4 separate regions of the Homo sapiens genome follow, and all the other regions are linked to region 4. The links come from fine-mapping of genetic effects on gene expression. A gene starts in region 4. Each other region holds a variant in brackets. All regions are shown on one strand. Distances are between the middles of the regions.

Region 1 (6,120 bases), 21 kb after region 4:
AGAAGAACCTGGGAAATTCCCAAGGAAAGCTTTGTTCCCAGATGACTAAGCAAGATGGGCTGCTGGTGAGCTTAAACTAGGAGACAGCCTGGGGCAGTACTCAGGAATCCAGTCCTGAAATAACAGGGGCCTGAACTAGATTGTAATGTTGGTAAAGGCTGGGTGTGATAAAATAAAAAAAAATGTATAAAGAGGGTGGAAATGATAAAAGGATTATCAAAATTAGTAGCTGAATATTATTGACATGAGGGTAAATAAGGAGTTGACATGCTTGAAGTTTCACATTTAGACAATAAGGAGAAGGATCCCAACAGTACAGTGAAACATTTTTCAAGTCCCTGTCTTGCTAAATCCAATGGTCATGCACTTCCCCAGCTGCATTTTACTTGACCTATCAGCATATTGACATAGGCTAACTGACACACAAGAAGGTCCCTTCTTCTTTCCTCTCTGAATCTTAGGGTACTGTTATACTTCCTCTTGATTCCTTTGTTTTACTGGCTGCTCTTTCTCATTCTCCTTTGCTGATTCCTCCTTATTCTCCTTTGCTGGTTCCTCCTCATCTTCTCCACATCCGAATATTTAAATCTCTAGCCCAAACCTTTTTCTTAGACCCCAGACTTGCATATTTACCTAGCTACTCAACACTTCCCCTTGAGTGTCTAATAAACATCTCAAACTTCAACATATCCACGACCAAACTCTGGATCTCCATAACCCCAAGCCTGCTTCTTTCAGTCTTCCTCTCTTCTTCCAAATGCTCAGGCGCAAAACCTTGAGATCACCTTTGATGTCCCTCTTTCTTTTCTGCCCCACATTATCTCCATCAGCGTATGTTTCTGGCTTCACCTACAAAATATGCCTGGAATCTGACCATTTCTTTCCAATTCTACTGCACCGTAGTGGACCAAATCATCATTATCTCCTAACTGGATTCTTGCTGAAACTCTCTGTTTTTACTCTTGTCCTCTTAGATCCATCCTAATGGCAGGAGCCAGAGTAATTTAAAAGAAAAAACACTCTAAGCTCATCATTCTGCTGTTCAGAATCCTTCAATGGTTTCTTATCTTATTCAGAGTTAAAGTCCTTACAATAGTCAATGGCTAAAGGATTCTCCAGCAATTGACTTCTTGCTACTGCTCTAACCCAGGACTGGCTACATAATTTGCATTTCCTAGTACCAAATGAAATGTGGGGCTTCTTATTAAAAATATTATGAAGTAATTCAAGGTGCTGATGACAGAGCATTAAACAAAGTGCAGTGCCCTTCTATGCCCATGGCCTTCTGTGACTGCACATCTGCACAGCTAGCCTTGCTCACACCTCGTCTTGTGCCACTTTTTCTTTTGCTTTCTCTGCTCCATTTATAAGGCCTTTTGTAGGTTTCTTGAACATACCAGTCAGGCTCCAACCTCACATTCTGTTCCTCTGCTTGAATTGCTTTTACCTAGATATGCGTGCAATTCATTTCCTGGTTTCCACCAGGAGTCTGCTTAAATATCCGTTGATAAACAGGGACATTGGGAAGGAGCTGTTTGGGGCATAATAGATAATATAATGGCATTTAGGCCTATTTGTAGACTCATGGAATTGTACAGGGTAGATCAGAGAGCATTTAAATGTACTTATTTCTAGGATTAAAAAATCTGACGACAAAATAAATTAAATGCCTACCTAAACTTATATACTACCTGTTATGAATTGAGAGCATGGTATTCAAAATAAAAATTCTCAGAAGTTAAGGATATATGGCTCATGCCTGTAATCACAGCACTTTAGGAGGCCAAGGCAGGCATATCACTTGAGCTCAGGAGTTCGAGACCAGCCTGGGCAACATGGTGAAACCCCATCTCTACAAAAAATAGCTGGGCATGGGCCTGTAGTTCCAGCTATTTTGGAGGCTGAGATGAGAGGATCACTTGAGCTCAGGAGGCAGAGGCTGCAGCAGTGAGCTGAGATCGTGCCACTGCACCCTAGCCTAGGCGACAGAGCGAGACCTCAAAAGAAAAAAAAAGAGAGAGGAAGAAATTAAGGATACATGATGCATACATGGAGGAGTAGTGTAGGATGTGTCAAACAGCACCAGTCATAAAGTCTTACAGGTAGGCAATGTTCTAATTCTAACATACTCATTTTGGGGAAGTGTTTTTAAAAGCAATAGGTAAAATAAATGAAAGAATATATATAGAAAAGAGCAAAGGCCTTCAAGCCTCTTCTTTTGGAAATATCCATAGCTATAGGGAAAGACAATTTGCTAAAAAAAAAAAAAAATAGAGCTTTAATTCTGGAGTCAGACAGCCATGGTTTTGAATTTTGGCTTATTCATTTATAAGCCATGAAACTGATTCTCTATGCCTTATTTTCCTCACTTGTAAAAGGTGGATGATAATAATAATAATTTTTCCACAGGATTTTGGGAAGAATGAATGAGCTAACCCATGTAATGCAGTATAGCAGCTTGCACATAAATAAATGGTATTTCATATTTTGATAACTTACAGGAAGAGATATTCCATACCATAAAATACATCAAGCTGCATTTAAAAAATTGTCCCTTTTTCCATAGTCCTAACTTTGAATGTAACATTTTTAGTTGTTGCTTTATAAAGACATGGATGTTTATGCTGTAATTGTTTGTGGTTTGGTTGAGGGGAAGTTACACCATGTGCTTTA[T/C]TTTATGCTGACATTACAAGAAAGTTTCTCTGTTGTTCCAAGGAACGCTTTTTTTTTCTTTTTTGAGACAGAGTCACCTTCTGCTGCCCAGGCTGGAGTGCAGTGGTGCAATCATGGCTTGCTGCAGGCTCAAATTTCTGGGCTCAAGTAATCCTCCTGCTTCTGCCTCTTGAGTAACTATAGGCATGCATCACCATGCCTGGCTAGCAATCCTCCTGCCTCAGCCTCTTGAGTAACTGCTTCTACAGGCATGCATCACCATGCCTGGCTAATTAAAAAAAAAAAAATTTGGTAGAGAGTGGATCTCACTTTGTTGCCCAGGCTGGTCTTGAACCCCTAGCCTCAAATGATCCTCCCACCTCGGCCTCCCAGAATGTTGGGATTACAGGGATGAGCCACTGAGCCCAGCTGGAGTACAAAATTTTTTTTTTTAATTGAGGCAGAGTCTTACTCTACTACCCAGGCTGGAGTGCAATGGCGCGATCTCAGCTCAGTGCAACCTCCGCCTCCCAGGTCAAGCCATTCTCCTGCTTCAGCCTCCCGAGTAGCTGGGATTACAGGCACGTTCCCCCACACCCAGCTAATTTTTGTATTTTTAGTAGAGGTGGGGTTTCATCATGTTGACCAGGCTGGTCTCTTAGCTCCTGACCTCAGGTGATCCGCTCGCCTCGGCCTCCCAAAATGCTGGGACTACAGGCGTAAGCCACCGCATCCGGCCAGCACAACATTTTTGAATAACTTAAAGTATGGTTTCAAACAGAAATTTCTGGGTATTGAGAAAAACTGGCATGTTTCTGAATTGTTGTTCAGCTGTACTTTTTGTTTCGAATAGAAATGCTTCAGATTGGCAGCCTGTTCTTATTATAGAGACTAGCGTATGCAACATGACTTATTTCCTTCACTTTGTCTCTAAAGTGAACCCTTTAACCCTTATACTAGATGTTTCTTTATCAAAAACTGGATAATGGCTTTATTCTCTATTATTTTATACAAGGATATATTTAGGGATAACTTTTCAAAAACATCAGCCATAGTTATCAAGAAAGAGAGGCGACAAAGGCTCTTATTCAAGTTCCATTAACTTTGACATTCCAGAAGATATGAACTTTAGATTTTGGAAAGATGCCCCAAATAAATGTTCTATCTGCCACTGAAAAAGTCTTTACTATTGACTCATTATCCCTAGGACATGAGTTGCTTTTCTGGTTATGATTTTTCAAAACCAGAAAAGAATGTTCCTTAACCTAGTCTTTCTCTTAGTACTCCTGTACTGCCTATTAGAAATGGCTGATCAGGATGTGGGACACACATTGCGTTATATTCACTTTTAGTGTTCATTGCTAACTGGCAATGAAAGAGTTCTGTATCTAGCCAGAGACAGCAATGCGGGACTGTGCTTATTTGTACAGTGTCTATGGTACATTAGTCAAATATTTGAGGGTTTTTATAGAGAATTATGTTGGCTTCCTGGAAGTTCTTTTTGCTTGTAGATTATCCTGACTGGCTGTGACAATTGCTATTGCTCTGTGTTTGCTAGAATTTACCAGCTCGTTGGATCCCACAAGGGAGCAAAATAGAAAAAAAAAAAGATTAAAGCAAAATGGAATGTACCAGCTCTGTGCTGGGAATACCTGTGTGTTGAAATGAGGACATACCAGAATCAACTTTGCCTTTGTTCACAGTCCAGATGAGGAGTCACCACTGGCCTTATTAGAGATAAGATTCAGATAAGAGCTCTGCCTTTTTTTTTTTTTTTTTTTTTGTCATGTGCTTCTAAGGAAATCATAAAGCTTTAAGCATAGGGATTGTGATTGAAAAATATAATTAGAACAAGAATCAAAGAAATACAAAAACTTAAATATAATTACCATTCTCATCCCTATTTCACAGATACTGGTGCTCCATTCATTCTTCATTTCTTCCTTAGAAAAATACTTGTTTAGCTTTACTCTAAATCGCAATACGTCTTGCCCCAAATTCTCCCATGCTATGCACAGATTCAGGGCTTTGAGGATTCTACCCAATTCATGAGGTCAGAATTCCTAATATTTTTCTTGCTACTTTCAGATTCTTGAATATTAAAATTCTTGCCACTTTTTCTAAGGCTTCCTCAAGTCTTAGTTCTAAGGTAATTCCCGGAGGGTCTCATTCCCTTTGAAATTTGAAAATTGGAATTTCTTTATTATTCCTGCCACATGGAAGTAAAAGAGACAATTGTATCTGCCTATGAAAGGCTTTACAGTTTCCCTGTTAAAACTAATATATATATAGTTTAACTAATTAGAAAATCCTCTCTCTTTGTTCAACCATAGCTCCAGCTTTATTATTTCCCTAACGTATACTACAGAGTCCCTTTACAGTCGCCTCTCTCAGAGGGTGGATCTGCAGAAAACACAGTTGTGACAAACTCTAACTTTAAAATATATATTTAAACAATTATGTTTTAAGCAGTAAGATTTGGAAGTAGAGAAATACATGCTATCACTATACAGGCCCATTTTACCATTAATAACATAAAAGCAGACAGTACTATATATTTTACTTATTTATTACTGTCTCTCCCTATAATTTTTTGTGTTTTTATTAATTTATGTACGCTTAGCACCTAGAATAGTACCTGGTATATAAAAGACATTGAAATCTTTGTTCAAAGAGTTAATTAGTGTTTTTGTCTTCCGTTGTAGCTCATGTAACTATTAAGGGTCCTACTGTGTGGTATTGTGTTTAAAAGATGTGAATGAGAGATAAGAGTTTCAAACAAGAAAATCTTATATTTTAGCTATTACTCCCTGAAAGGTGTAATTATGTGATGGTTATGTCTTATCTTTTGTATAAGAATTCTGAGTAGGAAAAATAAGTAATCTGTATTTATTTTATATCTCATACAAATATAACATTTTGTTACAAAAATAAATTGATACAAGGGTTGGAAGTTCTGGATCCCAGTCCCAGCTCCCTCCTTGATTATGTCTGGGTCCATGAGCACATTTATGTTTACCTTTCTGGATATAGTTCTGTTAACAGCATCACCAGGTTGGGCTAGATGCTCCCCACTATCTCCACTCTTCCTGTTCTCATTGCACCCTGGTTACCTATCGATTTCTCCCCACTTACGGCATTGTATTGAACACATCTGCCTATGTGTGTTTCCCTACTTGATTTGAGAAACTTGGACGCTACCTCACTAAAAAATAATGGCTACTATTTTTGAGTACTATCAAGTGCTATATTCTACCTATTGTATGTTACTTAGAACACCATTAAATAAGTATATCTAAGTCAATTTTGAAGAAGTGAAAATTTAAGACTTTGAGAACTTAAACAACGTGCACCAGGTCTGTAAACTTATGAGATTCCAATCTCTACTCTAACCCCAAAGTCTCTGCTCTTAGCCCTCTACACTATATCCTACTTCTTATCTACAGGATGATCATCATGTCCTGAACC
Region 2 (6,120 bases), 21 kb before region 4:
AGGCTGCAGTAAGCCATGTTCGTGCCACCGCACTCCAGCCTGGGTGACAAAGCTAGACTCTGTCTCAAAAAAACATAAAATATATCCCAGTATAATGTGTATTAAAAGTGTGATACATAGACGGGAAAAGACTGAACAACAAAACTGTTCCAGGAGTGCTGAGAATTTGGCATGTGATAAATGTGACATTTGAAATCAGCATAGAAAAGTTAGATAATTTAATGAATAGTATTTGGGATAACTAATTTGTTAAGGGAAATATATGAGTTGAGTTGTATCCTCAAAAAGATGTGTTGAAGTCCTAACCCCTGGTACCTATGAATGTGATCTTAACTGGAAAGTGTCTTTACAGATGTAATCAAGTTAAGAGGAGGTCATACTGGATTAGAGTGGGACTAATCAATCCAATTGACTGGTGTCCTTATAAAGATCTGGACACAGACATACAGAGAAGAATGCCAGGTGACAAGAGGCAGAAATTGGAATAATGCAGCCATAAGTCAGAGAATATCAAGGATTGACAACAATCACTAGAAACTAGGAAGGGGCCCTCCACCCCTAGAGCTTTCAGATAGAATCTGGCCCTATTGAAACCTTGATTTCAGACCTCTAGCCTCTGAACTGTGAGATAACAAATTTCTGTTGTTTTAAGCCACCCAAGTTTGTGGTAATTTATTACGGCAGCCACAGGAAACTAAAACAAAAAAATAAAGCTGGATCTCTATCTCTGTCCTCAAAGGAAAAAAATCTAGATGGATAGAAGAATTAAATGTAAAACAATCATCACCAAAGACCAGAAGAAAACATGAGTGAAAACTTCTATCTTTTGGGGAAAGGGGAAGGGCTTTTTAAAAATAGAAGGAAATAAATAAATTTGACTTTATAAACAACTTAAACATCTGTGTGGTAAGTCAAAAGGCAGGAAATTATAAAATAAATCTGTAACTCAGGGCAGATAAAGGGTAGTAAGAAAGATATAAACAGCCCATAAAAAAATGGACAAAGAACAAGATGAGTTGGCATGAAACTATAAATAAGATATAAAAACATGCTCAAATTTACTAAAGAAATGCAAATGCATTTAATGTGTAAAGTGTTTTACCGAGATTAAAGACTTATTTCAGTCAATTAGCTAGGGTGTAAAAACAGGTACTTCATTCACATTTGATGGGAGTACACATTGGTATAATCATTTTGGAGGGTAGTAAGTATTACCTCTTCCTTGGCTATTTCAATTATTTTCATATTTTTGCTTTTCCCATTCTAATGTGTGCATTGTTCATGTAGTTTTTTTTTTTTTTTTGTAATTTTCCCACAAGAGAGATCAAAGTCTGTTGAAGGATATTACTTTTGTGGAATGTGATATGTATGGGGTATCAGTTTGAAAAGCAATTTACAAGACATTACCCTAAAATCAGTGACTATACCAGTTCCACTGCAAACCACACCACTACTTTTTTCACTGATAGTATCTCATTTGTAATTTGCATTTTTAAGTGAAGAGAAATATCTTTCCAGAAACCAAAGAAATGTGATTTGCTACTCATGTAAATTGTATTTCATTTTTTTTGGTCCATTAATTCACAGATTCATATTAATTTCTGAATATTTCTATCCTCTTAGTAATTCCAAGAAATCCTTGGGTAACATATATATTAACTCTTGGTTTGCCTCTCACTGGGGATTCTTTCCACACCATGTAATTCTCAAGGTTCCATCCATTTCCATGGCTCTGCCCACCACCTTTATGCTAGATTCCTCAATCCACATGCTCTACAGCTAAATCTTTTCTTCTCAAACCACTTAGAACAGTGTTCTGCACACTGGGTGTTAAGCACTGAAATATAGACCTATAAGGACCATTTAAAAATATTATTTTTAGGGTTGTTTTAAATATTAAATATGAACAATTAGCAAATAATCCTATAGCATTAATGCATGGAAACAAGCAGTGGATATAAAAATATTCTGCTTAACTATGAAAGACTGCCTAAGTGCTTGAATAAATGAATACAAAAACGAGTTTTAAAATTCTTTATTTAAAAATCTCTAACTGTAATGTTTCATAAAAAATATACACGTTTCTATTTACATATTCCATTAATTCTATTAGTTTGAATTAGATTTTAAGTCCAATTTTGAAAAGCTTGCAGAATTTCTTCTGAAATTACTTAAAATTACTGTATGCATAAACTTACAAAAACATATGCTATACCAAGGCAGAGAAAAGAAAAAAAGTGAAGTGGCTACAAAGGTCCCTGGGGCATCACCTGCTCACCTAGGAACCAGGAGTACTGGATACTGTTCCGTTACTGGTAACCTATCTGGATGTAAAGGTTCATAAGTTACAATGCTTTTTTTGTTTAAAAAAAAAAAAAAGTCTGTACTTTACAAGCCAAAAGTGAAAATGCCACACATCCTCTTTACGCTTTCATGTACACTAAGTCACTCCATTTGGTTGATACCAACTAAGATACAATTTCTGAGATCATAATCTTTTCATGAAATTAAAGCAGAAAACTGTC[C/T]AGGAAAATCAGACTTCAAAGTTGGTGCAACTTAGCTGATCTCATGAAAATTCTTTGGAATCTTCTGTTGGTCTATAACCAATCAAGGACTCTTTACCGCTATCATCCACAAGTAGATCCACTAGCACATGTGGTTTATCATAACCAAAGGAGGTGGGGGCTTTTATTACGGTTATGAGCTCTTGTCCTTCTGTTTTTATTTCACCTTTATTATTTGGGGGAAATTCTGAGTCAGATAAGGAGCTATGTGATTCCAGACAGCTGGAATCAGTATCAAAACCATTTCTGGAGTGATCACTCTCAGAACAATTTCTGGAGTGATACGAGTTTAAAGCGATGCTGCCAGGTTCAGACTGGTTACTACTTAAAGGTGAAGAACTCTCTCTCTCTATTGGAGTCAGATGGCTGCCCGGGACCACGTCAGGAATATTTTCTTCAGTAGTCACCACTTCTGTTATACTAGAAAGTTCTTCTGTATGTTCCACTTTTCCTGGATTGTCTTCGGTATGCATGCCTGGAACTGTTGCTGGAGACAACGGCTCTTCACAGACCACCTCCTTTTCTAAGGAAAATGGCTGGTATGACGTGATGAGTGATACATATTTTGATTCAGGTTTTGTCTCTAAAGTAGCACTTCTTACCACAGAGATCTATGGGGAGAAAAATTGATTAAAGATAAAAAATTGTTAAGCTTAAGTGCCTACCCTCAAAAAAAACAAAGGTCTGAAGTAATGGACCACCAAATGGCACATTTAGGATAATGGGTGAATCAGATGTTGCCATTTCTTTTTAATGAAAGGTCCCATAGTAATATTAAAAACAAAGTTTTAGAATTTTTAAAAAGCCATCAGATATCTTACTAATATATGTTGCTTTTTGTACGTTACTGTGATGGTTAATACTGAGTGTCAACTTGATTGGACTGAAGGATACAAAGTATTGATCCTGGGTGTGTCTGTGAGGGTGCTGCCAAAGGAGATTAACATTTGAGTCAGTGGGCTGGGAAAGGAAGACCCGCCCTTAACCCGAATGGGCACAATCTAATCAGCTGCCAGCATGGCTAGAATGTAAGCAGGCAGAAAAATGTGAAAAGAGAGACTGGCCTAGCCTCCCAGCCTACATCTTTCTCCCATGCTGAATGCTTCCTGCCCTTGAACATCGGACTCTGAATTCTTCAAGTTTGGAGCTTGGACTGGCTCTCCTTGCTCCTCAGCCTGCAGATGGCCTATTGTGGGACCTCTGATCGTGTGAGTTAATACTAAATAATACTAAATAAACTCCCCTTTATATATATATATATGAAAAATATAATTAATATATATTATATAATATATAATTTATAATATATAATATATAATTTATAATTTATAATATATTATATAAAATATAATTTATATTACATAAAATATATAATTTATAATATATTATATAAACATATAATTTATAATATAATATATAAAATATATAACTTATATTATATAAAATATATAATTTATAATATATTATATAAAATATATAATTTATAATATATTATATATAATATATAATATATATTATATAACATATAAAATATATATAATATATAATATATAAAATATAGATTTATATAAAGGGGAGTTTATTTGGTATTATATATATATCTTTATATATATATTCCATTAGTTCTGTCCCTCTAGAGAATCCTAATACAATTATCTTCCACATGTACGCACATTATGTTTACAAAGTGGGCACATCTACTTAAGTAATATTCTCATTACTTGCCTTCATCATTATAATTTTTAGTAGCTCATATTATTTCTTTATACTGATAAATAATTTAATAGATGGGGAAATGTTTCCAATTTTTACTAGCTATGGAACATGTTAAATATCCTGTACATCTTTTTATTTATGAAATTATTTCCTTATAATACATTTTTTAAGAGTGGAGTGACCATATCAAAGAAATGGTATGTTTACGTCACTATTACACTGAATACCCACTGTGTGCTTTTATTCTTACCAGGGCTAGATTACTTTTCACCAGCATTTACCCGTTATGCTACTGCTGGTACTACTGGATATCCAGGTTTCTTTTTTCTTCTCTAGCGCGTGTAAAATGGCATACTGCAAGGTTACTTTGTGCTTAATTACTAGTAAGAATAAAATATTATAATTCATTTGTGAGTTGACTACTAACTGTTGAGAGTTCTTATCCACTTTAAAGGTAGTTTATAGCAAATTTTAATGTGCCCTTTGAGCATCACAGATATTATTCCTGTCATATTTGACTCAAATAGATACTATTCTGTTACCTTTAAATGTTCTTTACATCAAAGGCTTTGAAATGTTGGACATTAAAATCGTCAAACTCCTACGTTAGTCTCATTTTTGGCCAACTTTCCTTTCATACTCCAACCATAATGAAGTGTTTCTGTATTTGCAGAGCTTTCAAAGTCATGCTTTCTTGGCTCTGGACCTCAGCACATTCTGTCCCCTAGTGCCTAAACTCCTGTATGTCCCTCAAGACTGCTCAGGCATTGCCTCTGGAAAAGCCATGACTAACCCCACCCCAAAGCTGGACAAAGTCCTCATGGGCTCAGGTATAAATCTTTGAATCTATCACACGTTATATAGCCAATGTATATTTATCTTTTCTTCCCCCTAGACTTTAAGATCTTTAACAGAATTGTCTCACCGTGTTTTTCCCTGAGAATAAAAAAAAAAACAAAATACTTGCTGCACAGCAAAAGACACAGTATGTGATTTTGCATGTGTGGTAGACTGACTGATTGATGGCAGGTGACATCTTGTTGAATATCATTCTACTTTAAAAACATAATTTAAGAAACTATCAAAAAAGGTTCAAGTTAACTTTTTAGTGTATATAAAAAAATTAAATACATTACCAAGGACTTGGGTAATATTATGCTTTTTTCCTTCAATGGATTAATTTTCTTAATATAAAAACAGATGAATACCAGGCTAAGCACTAGAAAGAGTAGTAAAGCAGCAACAACTGGAATCCAAAGAGAACCTTAAAAAAGGCAGAAATCACAAGTTACAATTAAGATGGAATACTGCTATTATCTATCAAAAAGTCTTAGTGCCATTCTTGAATAGATTTACAAATTAGTGAATAGGGCCAGAGTTTTAAAGAACACTGAAGGAAGCAGAAGTTAGGAAATCTGAGTAAAAAATTAGGTATCTGTCTTAGATAGCAATATGGTTCTTCCCAGCTCTGCAATTCTAGAACTTTCTGGGACTATTCTACTATGACACAACATAGTTAAAATAGCTTTTCTACAATAATTTCCTTACAGCCCTACATACAGTGTGTTTCCAGGGTTATGCATTTCTTTCGGTTAAAAATGCAAAAGAATAATTTTAAAAATACCTCTCCTTAGAAACAAATTCTGGCAGCTGGGCACAGTGGCTCAAGCCTGTAATCCCAGCACTTTGGGAAGTCGAGGTGGGCGGATCACGAGGTCAAGAGATCGAGACAATCTTGGCCAACATGGTGAAACCCCATCTCTACTAAAAATACAAAAATTAGCTGGGTGTGGTGGCATGCGCCTGTAGTCCCAGCTACGTGGGAGGCTGAGGCAGGAGA
Region 3 (6,120 bases), 87 kb after region 4:
TCAGGTTTGTCTTTATTAGCAGCATGAGAATAGACTAATTACACTGAGGGAATGTACACAGAAGCCTTCTTAGAGATGATACCTGTCTGAAAAATGAAACCGTTAGATAAGAGAGCAAGGCTAGGACTGGGCAGGAAGAGTAAACTCTTTGGCCTTGATGAATGTACCATGTTAGTGTGGGGACAAGGTTGTGGGATGAGGGCACGAGGAATGATGATAGTAGAAGGAAGATAGTGTAGAGACAAATTTTGCAAAGTCCATAAATTGCCAAAGACATGATCTAAATAGATTAAACAGAACAGTAGATGATATGTATTCTTTCTGGGTAGGAGTGGGGGTGCTAAAGGGAAGGAGAAAAAGAGTGAGTACAAACCCTCAGAGATTCCTTCTCTCTTCTGAATAGTTACAGCAGAAGTCTATTTTCACTTTTAGTGGGCTGGTCAGCATCTGGATGAGTAGTATTTGTAGATTTCCAGGCTTCTGTGGTTTGGAGGTTTATGATAAGGATTTTACTGTTGGATGGGAATCAGAGTTCCTGCAAACTGATCCTGATCCTTGACTCAGTCGGGCCACCTGGCTATGGCAGTATGTTGCAGACAAATGGCTGTAGTCACATGGCTCGGCAGTAAAGGTATGTTGAAAGGTAGTTCTCCAGAGAGAAAGGTAGATCTCTCTCATTTCTTACATCTTGTGAGCAGAACTAACAGACCCCTTGTTCTTTTCAAAGATGTTTGTATAGTAAATAGTCTTGGAAAACAGAGGTAAGATCTCTCTCCACAACAGAGGGCAGGTTTGTTTGCTGTCCAGTATAATAATATCTCTCTCTAGGGCAAAGAGAGAGATATATTATTTTCTTTAATGAGCGGGTTTGTTTGTAGCCCATTAAAGAAAAATAAAGTTTTCCTAAATTTGGGATTCCTTGGCTATTGTAACCAAATTCATGTTCAGCTGCTCACTGCTTGAAAAGCCAGACATGAGAAGTGAGGATTAGTGGGAGGAAAGCAGGTTTCTTCAAGTGCTAGAAGCTTGAGGAAACAGCCTGACTCAACTCTCAAAAAACCATCTCAAATTCTCAGTTTGGCTAAAGAGGTTTAAAGGGGAAAGGTGGCATGGAAACTATGCACCAGCATGGTGCGGGGTGCAAGTTTGCTTGTAATTTTCTGGTGACTTTTTTCAGTAATGGACCACCCAGAGGCCTCACTGGCATCATCTCAGCAGGGTTCAGGTTATGGATTAATTGAACACCAATTTTTTCTCAGAAGGGAGAAAATTGCAACTGCTATCTCCACTTTATGCCTACATTATTTCAATATTGGCCACTGGAATTCTCTAGCAAACAGTTACATGTAACAAGGAACAAAGGGAGGGAGGGGTTACTTTTAGAGTAAGCTAGCAAACTGGCTATACTAGTTACAATATGATGCAAACCTCCTTCATGTATCGACCCAGCCCACCTTCATTACTCCAGTGAGACTTAGCAGAACAAGGGGTTGATGTGAATATGAAAACACATGCTACCCGTTGTGTTGGAAGTAAGAAAGTCCTTTGAGTCTAATCCAGAGTCTTGTGGCTTTTGCAATTATCCATGAAATTGTGGCAGGATAAATTGTTAGCTTGCTTTTTGGTAAATAGCTTAGGTCTTCACAGCTCTTGACAGGCAGGACACTGGTGCAAGACTCCAAACTGCAGCAGGATCATGATAAGGGTGTCTTTGAACAACACACTTGGAGTTAGGCATTATCCAGGTAGAACAGAGCTAATAGTTTCTGCTTGATCCATATTGATTATGAATTTGACAAGTTTCTATCACACAGATCACTCAGGAAATCAGTGTTAATGGAAATGATTACACAGGGGACTATAATTTTATTTACAGTATGTGAAAGTTGAAAAACATAGGGACATAAATACAATGTCTAATTAAATTCTGTTTTAATTCCTTTTGGACTGCCGGGACCAGTTCGGTCGGGGAGACCCTAACCTAGTGGCGCTAGAGGAATTAAAGACACATACACAGAAATATAGAGGTGTGAAGTGGGAAATCAGGGGTCTCACAGCCTTCAGAACTGAGAGCCCCGAACAGAGATTTACCCAGTGTTTATTAATAGCAAGCCAGTCATTAGCATTGTTTTTATAGATATTAGATTAACTAAAAGTATCCCTTATGGGAAACGAAGGGATGGGCCAAAATAAAGGGTTGGGTTTGGCTAGTTATCTGCAGCAGGAGCATGTCCTTAAGGATCGCTCATAATATTGTTTGTGGATTAAGAATGCCTTTAAGCAATTTTCTGCCCTGGGTGGGCCAGGTGTTCCTTGCCCTCATTCTGGTAAACCCACAACCTTCCAGCATGGGCGTTATGGCCATCATGAACATGTCACAGTGCTGCAGAGATTTTGTTTATGGGCAATTTTGGGGCCAGTTTATGGCCAGGTTTTGGGGGGCCTGTTCCCAACATTGGACCACTTTTCATCCACTTCCATTCAAAGTCTGGATGATGGAACAAATAAATAAGGTGATCATTAATGTATATATGGATTTTCCATTTTATTTTTCATATTACAAAGTGATATGATAGACTGAATTGAGCCTGAGCTTGAGATTTATTGAAAGCAGATTTTCCTTTATCATCAGCTGTCATTTTAAATATACTAAGGAGAATATGCAACACTGGGATTTATGAGACGTGGCTTGAGTTGCTACACTTTGCCTTGGTGGAAATTCCAGTCTTGTGAGAGATACTGGAATGAAATACATCTTAGTTAGTTTACTGGAGGAACACCATAACATTTGGGTTAAGAGCACAGATAATGAAGATACACTGCCCATGTTTGAATTCTGGCTTTATGTCTACAGCCATACCACCCTGAATGTGCCTGATCTCATCTGAATTCTGTCTTTATCATTTACTAGCTGTGTGATCCGAAGTAAGTTACTTAACCTTTCTAAGCCTCAGTGTTCTCTTTTGTAACATGGGGATAATAGGACTTACCTGATAGGGTTTTTGTGAGAATTAAATGAATGTATACACATGTATAGTTGTGCTTATAATGGTATCTGGCACATATATGTACTGTAAGTTTTTGGTATTATTATACATATATGTACATTATTGGTACATATACTAAGACCAGTATTTCATATCATAAAACTGAGAATAATATCTGAAATAACTATTATTTGAATTTTTCCCTCCCCTCTAAAAAAATGTTAACTTGCTTACAAATAATTACCTGTGTGGAAATGTCTGCAAATAGTCATTACTCTAATTAGTTCATGGAGGATATGTTGGGCCAAATAGATACAGCAATACTTAATTTTCCTTTACAGAGTTAATGGTTTTTAACCCTAACAATTTATCATTCAAAACATCTGAGTGCCTACTATGTGCAAAGTTACATATTGGCCATCTTTTAGCTCAAAAAGATTGTTCCCTACTAATTCTGAGACTAGTAAAAGTCTTCTGTAAAACTCTTTGATAGTCATGAGGGTATTGGGGCTGACAATATGATACCCCAAAGTAAGGCACCTTGGCATGCTGAGTACTTTGAACTAAAGGAGATTGAAAGACTGAGA[G/A]GCACGGTCCTTCTGCTCCTCTCCCGTCCTCCTATCTGTTGCCCCTCTTTCTACCACAAAGCGAGTCATAGAAACCAGAATTCCTCTTTCCCAAGGTGGGTCACAGAAACTAGAACCTCTTTCTTCCAAAGCAAGTCATAAAACATATAAAGGTCACTCTCTCCCTTCTCCCTTGAAAATTCTCATTCCAGATGGGTCCTGCCCCATATCCAGGAGGAAAGAAGGCTACACAGGGAGGCCAAAAAGAATCTGATCAGTCAGACCTCACTGGGTTCTGCCCTCAGTCTATTACCCTTTGGTCCAATCACACTTCTACACGGCTACCCATTCTTCATTGATCCTAAGCATAAAAATAGATGGTTTTCCCAGGGTCTTTAGGTCTTCATCTCTGAAGTTTCCCATGTCACATAAAACTTTGATTAAATAAATTTGTTACGCTTTTCTCTTGCTAACCAGTCAGTCTTTTGTTATAGAAATGTCAGCTGTGCTGGATGAGGAAAGGTGTCACATCTTTCTGCCCTTACAAGTGCATAAAGAGGTCTGTTGCTTACAAAATGTCTGGCGCATAATAAACATTCAAAAAAACAATGTGTCATTAGCACTGTCAGGCCCGGCCTATTGTGGAGCGTCTGTAAATGCAGGTGGTGCTAAGTCTGATCACAAAATAACTGAAATCACAGATTACCAATGATTGGTAGTTGGGTTGGGTTAGTAGTTTAAGAAATTATTCCATACTTCATGGGTACAGACCTTTTGTCCTGTGACCCTTGCATTTTAGACTACCTGTCTTTATGTATTTTAGCTTTATCTTTGGCGGGTAGATGAAAAGTCAGCATGTTCTTATTTATTTTTAAAATTTGAGGAACTCCGTGATCAGAAACCGTCGTGTGTGTGTGTGTGTGTGTTTCCATTTTATAGCCTAACTTCCTCTTGGGTCTCATATAGCTTAGTCTATTTTCTAACATGAACTTCCTTCCTTTCTGCATAACAGTGTCTGAATTTGCAGGACTCTGTACCCAATAAGTGTTGTTAACTGATTGGTAATCTGTGATTTCAGTTATTTTGTGATCAGACTTAGCACCACCTGCATTTACAGATGCTCCACAATAGGCCTGACCTGAGAGTGCTAATGACACATGGTTTTTTTAATTGTTTATTATGTGCCAGACATTTTGTAAATAAAATCTCATTTAATAACGTTAAACTGTACTTAAAGCATCTAGTTATTTAGAAGTCACATAGCTGTAAAAACAGCCCACTTGTCAAATCCAATAATTATGAGTATTACTTATCATATTTTATGCTGCGTTAGGTCTAAAGGCATATATAGATATTGCTTATCCTAATATTTTTTCCAAGGCAAAGTGTAGCTACTTAGGTCAAACTGTAAAGTCTAATTATGTTGACACATAGAGCAAGGATTAAGGCATTAAATATTTGGGATTTCTATTCATATTTTAAAAGTCACAGAAAATTACATTTCTTGACCCTTTTTTTTCCACATTTTAATTATGCCAAAAATGATTTTAACTAAACATTTTTCCTTATCAGAAAAAAAACCTGGCTTAAAAACAGTGTCTTCTCTCTATCTCTGGCAATATCAATATTGATATATAAAAAGGACAGTATATACAGGTAACTTTCCTAAGCCTCCCAAGACCCCTTTCATAATCCAGGCTATGTGCTTACTCCATAATGTTGTACAGTCCTGGTGGGGTCTGCTTCGCTGTTTCCAAACTGTGAGGAGCTTTGAAAACCATCCAGTCCCATTTCTTGGTTTTACAGATGGTGAAATGAAGGCCCAGAGAGATAAAATTAACCTAAGCAAAGTCATTGAAGAATAGGAAAGAGTAGTGTAAAATCACACTGCTAGAAAAAAAATCTTCCTTCATAATTAATTTTGAAAATTCCATGTCTAATCTGGAACTAAATATTCCCTGTAAAAGAAAATTCCTTGAATACCATGGATAATGCATTCTAATATCTAACAACCTTTTTAGTCAGAAGTGTCATTCTTGAGTGTAATAACCTCTTTTCATGCAAATTAAGCTTATTTCCACTTGTTAGATGCTTAACAGAGATGGATGATAGTCACTTTAGTAATTATAATCACACAAATGTGCATTAAAATATTTGTCAGTGTTAACTTATGCTCCATTATTTTCTTTGTACTTGCTAAAGAATTCAACATTTAAAATTTTCTAACATGTCTTTGCTTCCCATCCCCAGTTACTGAGACAGAAATCTCAATATCATGATTTGCTCCTCTATATTTTTCACTTTTACCTCTAATAAATTACTAAGGCCTGTTTGGTTTTGTTCCTTTGGTAGCCCTCAAATCTCCCAACCTTAATGTCACAATTTAATTTATACCACAGTCATTTATCACATTTCTCACATTATCACATTTCACTTGTGATAATTGCTGATTGATTAGTCAGCAATTATTGTGACAACAGCCAATTCTAAAATCTTGGTTGTTTAACGAACAAACAAACATTTATTTCTTGTTTGTGTTACATGAAGACAGCAGGTTAACCGCAGGT
Region 4 (6,120 bases):
GTTGGTGTGAAGTCCAGCCTAGCTCTTCAGCTATTACTCAGAGTGGGACACTCATCTGGATGAAGAAAGCCAGTGGCACACCCTGATTCACTTAAAAATATATACTACTTTTATGTGTAAAAGTGCATGAAGAGTGAAATACTACTGATTAAGTGGCACACACAGATTTTATTTTCACTTAAGAAGTATTAATGAAAGCCCATGAATGTAACACAATACATTCCTAAACACCTGGATTTCCTGGAGACTGACTATATCACCATATTCACTTGTCTGCTTCCCTGTTCTTACCAGGTCCTCTCATCTAAGATGAACTTCAACTATAGAGTCAAGCCCAGCAACAGTAAGAATAAGGCTGGGAAGCTAAGCAAGAGCCAGAGCATTGTTGGTTTCTTCCTACTTTGGAGATTTTGTGTTTTAAATTAACTTTAAAAGAACAGGGAACACAACAAAATCTAGAGAAATGCACTGAAAAATCTAGAGAAATGTGTTAGAAATGCACTTTAAAAAGAGGGCTCACTGAAACTAATGAAAAGCAAGGCCGGGGTGCTTGTCTCTTCTAGGGGAGTCAGGAAAGGCTTCACAAAAGTGACCCCAGTTTTAGAACGAGAGGTACAGAGACAAATTCAAAAGTTTCTGCAGAATATAGAAGGCTGCAGTTGATCTTCCCACGGGAGGCAGACAGGCAATCCTCCTCCCAGAGCAAGCTACAAGGACGTGCAAATTGTGCACTCACAGGGGTCACACGGTGCACTCATAGGGCCCCGTATTCAGAAGGAAGGGCCTGGCACTTGCTTTAACGCTATGCCTGCGCTAGCGTTATCCTCTTTCTCTGCTGACATCCAGTCAGAGGCCTACTAACTCTTCCTTCTAAATGTTCTGCTAACTGTCCTCTTCTCCACTTAAACTACTTATCGACTCCAACTTAAGCAGCAGCCTCCTAATGGGCCTTGTGTTTACCCTCAAACTATTTTATAAGATGACTGGTCTTTCTAAATGGCATGTCTGATCCTGCATAAAATCATTTCCCTTTGTAATTGATAATCCAATGATGTCAGCATTAGTAAATAATGACTGACTTCAGCAAGGCATAGTGGGTGTATTATTTTGTTGGCTCAACACCTGTACTTCAGGCACGCCATTCCGCTTCTTCTGGTAACCCAACCCAACCCTCTACGAGAATGTCCTTCCCATGCAAGCTGGCACCTGAACCTAGCTGGGCAAATCAGAGCCTTTCCCTGGCATTTTGTTAGAATGGAGGAGGCTGCAAGATGTCAAAACTCAGAAGCTGTCAGCATCCATGATTCCTGCCAAGTGTGGAAAGCTGTCAATACCCAGACAGAAATAAGAAATGGAGAGTCCTAGCAGTTTGGGTTCCTGGTTCTAGCCTCTTGAGACCCAGCTGGCATCTATAATTTTCTGTTTAACTCTGGTTTTTCTGAGACAATAAATTCCTCTTTTTGCTTAAGTTAATAAAGCTAGGTTTCTTGCTGGTACACATAATATGGCAATTCATTATTTGGTTCCTACTTCTCCACCTAACCTATCTCCTCCCCTTGTAAGCTCTCACACACACTTTACAATAGAACGCTTAATATTCCACGAATTCAACATGCTATCACACCTCTGCACCTCAGTCTCTGCACCTCTGGTTCCAACACTGGGGTCACCTTTGTGAAGTCTTCACTGACTTCCCTAAAAGAGACAAGCACCCCGCCTTGCTTTCCACTAGTCTGTGCCTAAGTGCAAGCTCTTACCGCAAAGTACTGCAACTGCCCATGTGGATGACTGACTAGAGCCTAGAAGAGCAGTTAAGAACTTGGACTCTGGAGCCAAATTGAGCAGCTCCCCACTGAGTGGCTATGACCTCTCTGCCAGTTGGGCAGGCCTCTCCGTAACTCAATTTCTCGTCCATAAAGAGAGAGACAAATAACGCCTACTCCAGAAGATTGTTGTGAACACAGAACCAAAACGTGGACCTTTCAAAGTCCCTATGAATCATAAATCATAATAAAAAAAAGAAAACTGAATTGAAAAGGTTTACTGTTTTCTCTGGAGCTCGTAATCACAATTACTCTGCACTTCAGAAAAGCCACCCTCAACATTTGTTTTCTAGGAAATGTCAATAAGCAGGTGGAAATAAAATGCTCCGAAGAACAAACCCGTACGAAGAGACCTACTGCCAAATCTGCTAGTGAGTGCCGGCAATCCACCACTTCCAGACTGAGACCTAAGACGGACTGCCACTTACTTCTCAGCTGCCACTTACTTCTCAGCTGGCGACATAATGCATACTTTCCTACCCTAAGCACTTTGAGTCCCCCCCCCCACCCCCGCTAAGAAAGAAGTATTTAAGCCACGAACTGAGACCACGATGCCACATGCTGATCAGGACACTCACAGTCATGCGTCACTTAACGATGGAGATCCGTTCTGAGAAATGGAGAAATGTCCCCTTAGGCAATTTCTTCGGGCAGTAGAAACCCAGACAAACCCAGATGACACAGCCTACTGCTCTTAGGTCATGAACCTGTACAGCCTGTCACTGCACTGAACACTGCAGGCAACCGTAGCATACTAGTGAGTATCTGCGTATCTAACCATAAAAAAAGGTACAGTAAGAAGACGATATTATAATCTTTGAGACCACGCTGTCCCACATTGACCAGCAACGTCCTTCTGCAGCGCATAATCGTATTTAAAAGTGGATTACAAGAGTCGGAAAAACAAGCGGCGTGATTTGTTGTGGCGGCAACCAGGGAAGAGGCAGGAGAAAGGCAACCGACGAGTTCAAACCACGGAGCCCCAGTCTCGCGACCCCACCTCGCGTCCCCGTCGCCCGCTCAGGGCCCGACGCAGGGGTCCCGGGCTAGGGCGACCTCGGAGAAGCGGGGCGGGGCTTCCCGGCTGGGGCGGATCCCTCCCTCCCTCTCGTCCCGACCCGGCCGCAGCCCTGCCGCGAACGACGGTACCTGAGGACGGCCCCAGATCCGCGGTGCCCATCTCAGCCCTGCTCACACCCTGCATGACAAGGGGTAGGAGAAAGAGGAGAGCCATGCTGCTACCGACGGTCGCTGGCTCCAACCCCGAGCGCCTGCGGGACCAGCCCAGCACTGCCCTCCAGCCCCGGCCTTACGTCACTTCCGTCACCGGGGTCTGTGCCGGCGTCGGCAGGAGGCGGGACCAGGGCGTGGGCGGGGTCAAGTCCGGGAAGCCGCAGGAGGCGGACTCAGGCGCAGCACCCAGCAGTGAGCACGGCGTCGTGCGGTCGGGACCTGGACTTCTGGGTGTGGGAGGAATTTGAGTGCAAAGGTTAAGGTCTTTCAACCTGGCACCCCATTCTGCAATTCTTCTTCCAGTTTTTTTCGGTTTCCTGGGGTTGTGCAAGTTTGCATTAGGCCACAGCCGAGCCACAATCCTTATTTTACTAACTCTTGGACTTCACCTGGTTGTCTTGGAGCCTGACATTTTTAGAAGAGAATGAGACTTCAAAAGCCATTTCCAGTCCCTGCTTTTTCATTTGAGGAACCTGAGACTTAGCTAGTGAAATGGTTTGTGCAGATTCCCACAGCCCAAATCAAATCGGCTTGACCAAGAACTACTTTGTTCTTGGAGAAAAAAACTATTTGCATTACCTTCTCAGCAATTCAGTGTCAAATCAGTTTATCAGGCAGCCTCTCATGAAGAGGTCTGCTCTCTTACCTCTCTGGGTTTGTCTGTTATTTTGCATCTCTCCTATTCCACTGCAGCCACATTGCTAAGTCCTTCAGCGCTTGTGCTCAAACATGCGAATGTCTAATGATCTCACCTGTTTCAATTCTCTGAGTATCATGAACTTTTGTTAAAAATTTTAAATTGCAACACACCTTCTCCTCCTCCTTACCCCGCCCTACTGTTTTTTCATGGCACTTTTCACCTTGCTGTACACTATAATATACACCTTGATATTTGTTTTCTTCTCCTTCTAAAATGTAAGCTCCGTAGAGCTGACATCTTTACTTGGCACTCAATTAGTATTTGTTGAGTGAAAGACTGCATGATTACTAGTGTTAAGGAAAATTTTTAAAGAGGGAAAATCCTTATAAAGACACTATATAAACTAGAGGTATTATCAGCCAGATCATTTTACTTGTATTAATAAATCTCTTAGCTCAGTACTTCTCAAACTTCAACATACATGTGAACCATCTGGGGATCTTGATAAAATGCAGATTTGGATTCAGTAGTTCTAATTCAGGTTGGGTCTTGAGATTTTGTATTTCGGACAAAATGCACAGGGGATGCTGGTGCCCCTTTCAACAGGACCACACTTTGAATCAGAAGAATTTAGCTCAATCTAGACTAAGTTTAGGGAGAATATTTCCTTTGATGTGTTTCTGATGTCCACTATATGAAAGACACCTTCTAGTCGTTGTAAGGATGCAAGGATAAATAACTGATCTTTACCGTTTAGGCGTCTATGGAGTAGGACAAAATATGATATCCAGTTTGTAAACATTTTTGTGGTACTTGTCACAGGCTGGGTTACCCTGGCAGTAAACTCTGAGGTCGAGATTAAGGTATAAGGCATTGATTGATTAGGGAGTGCTCTTGGAATAAACGTCTGTGAAGGGGAGGTGGAGGAAGCAGAGCGGAGGAAGAAGTTGATCTGTGATGCCATCCCAGTAAAGGCTCCCAAGGGGCGCTCTGGAGTTGGGATGGCCTTGTAAAGGTGTCTTGAGTTGGTATGAGGGGCTGGGTCTTAAAGCCCAGCACTGATTAGTCATTGAATACCAACTGTCATGATTTTGGGGCTGTCCATTTCTTTCATGGAGGCATTCCCCAGAGGAACGCTGACGGTTGAGGGTGTCTACTGGCAGCCCTCCTAGCATCAGGAAGGGGACAGAACCCAGTCTTCTGTTCCTGAGAGGGATCTGGGCAAGTTTCACAATCACAGCACCCACCACCCTACGTATCCTTCTGAAGACTTTGCTAGTTAGTCATTTGGAGACTAAATATATTTATTAATTGGGTGAATATTATCAAGTGATACTGTCTGTGACTGACATGACCAGGCACAGAGATAAAGACCTGAGCAAGACAGACATGGCCCCTGCCCTCACGGAGCTTACTGTCTACTGAGGGAGATAGCTGTTAAACAAGGAATTACACAAGTACTGAAATCGTGATCATCATTCCCAAGGAGAGCAATGGGAAGAGATTAAAGGAGTATAAACAGGAATTTAACTTAGTCTACATTTTAAAGAAAGTCTTTCTTTTCTTTTTTCTTTCTTTTGAGACAGGGTCTCACTCTGTCGTCTAGGCTGCAGTGCAGAGGCATGATCATAGCTTACTGCAGCCTCAAACTCCTGGGCCCAAATGATCCTCTTGCCCCAGCCTCCCAAATAGCTGGGACTACAGGTGTACACCACCATGCCTGGCTAATTTTTTTTTTTTTTTTTGAGACAGGGTCTGACTGTATCACCTAGCTGAGGTACAGTGGCACAATCTCAGCTGACTGCAACCTCCACCTCCCGGGCGCAAGCCATCCTTCCACCTCAGCCTCCCAAGTAGCTGGGACCACAGGCATTTTTTTGTGTCTTTTGTGGAGATGGGGTTTCACCATGTTGCCCAGGCTGATCTCAAACTCCTGAGCTCAAGCAATCCGCCCACCTTGGCCTCCCAAAGTGCTGGGATTACAGGAGTGAGCCACCTCGCCTGGCCTTATGCCCGGCTAGTTTTTAAATTTTTTATAGAGCTGGGGTCTTGCTGTGTTGCTCAGGCTGGTCTCAAACTCCTGGGCTCAAATGATTCTCCTGCCTCAGGCTCCCAAAATGCTGGGATTACAGGTGTGAGCCACTGTGTCTGGATTTAGGGAAATTCTTTTTTAAGGAAGTTACCATTATGTTGTGACCTGAAGGATAAGGTAAAATTAGCCTGAATAAAGTTAAAAGATGGGGGTGGCCACCGGCTAATAAGAGAGGTAGGAAGAAGAGCAATAAACTGTATTTTAAAATCCCATATAAAAATCTCATACAGCTAACACAGAAACAAATGAGCGGTGCCAGCTTTCCTTGATAAATTTCCAATGCCTAATGGCTGGGGAATATCCAAGTATACGTTGGTCCCCACTAGAGCCTC

Evidence for each region. PIP is the estimated chance that this variant, and not a neighbour inherited with it, causes the effect.
Region 1: its variant is fine-mapped to the expression of IFNGR1 in whole blood (INTERVAL, PIP above 0.99).
Region 2: its variant is fine-mapped to the expression of IFNGR1 in whole blood (TOPMed, PIP above 0.99). The same link has a PIP of 0.9 or more in T cells and esophagus mucosa.
Region 3: its variant is fine-mapped to the expression of IFNGR1 in whole blood (TOPMed, PIP above 0.99). The same link has a PIP of 0.9 or more in blood mononuclear cells.

Annotation. Positions count from the first base shown.
Region 1 is chr6:137,237,598-137,243,717 of GRCh38, forward strand. No RefSeq gene overlaps it. Among named protein-coding and RNA genes, the nearest start is that of IFNGR1, 21 kb to the left of the region's middle. The variant T/C (reference allele first, on the strand shown) is at 2,674.
Region 2 is chr6:137,195,465-137,201,584 of GRCh38, forward strand. It overlaps IFNGR1 (interferon gamma receptor 1), which reads right to left. Exons shown (of 7, transcript NM_000416.3): 6 at 5,417-5,544; 7 at 2,021-3,175. The coding sequence ends at 2,567. Among named protein-coding and RNA genes, the nearest start is that of IFNGR1, 21 kb to the right of the region's middle. The variant C/T (reference allele first, on the strand shown) is at 2,526.
Region 3 is chr6:137,303,163-137,309,282 of GRCh38, forward strand. LOC105378017 (a long non-coding RNA gene) reads right to left here. Exons shown (of 3, transcript XR_943043.1): 2 at 5,264-5,394; 3 at 2,610-2,739. Among named protein-coding and RNA genes, the nearest start is that of IFNGR1, 87 kb to the left of the region's middle. The variant G/A (reference allele first, on the strand shown) is at 3,575.
Region 4 is chr6:137,216,271-137,222,390 of GRCh38, forward strand. It overlaps IFNGR1 (interferon gamma receptor 1), which reads right to left and starts at 3,115. Exons shown (of 7, transcript NM_000416.3): 1 at 2,973-3,115. The coding sequence starts at 3,057. RefSeq lists enhancers at 1,255-1,314, 2,755-3,485, 3,336-3,585 and silencers at 2,296-2,345, 2,806-3,025, 3,066-3,295.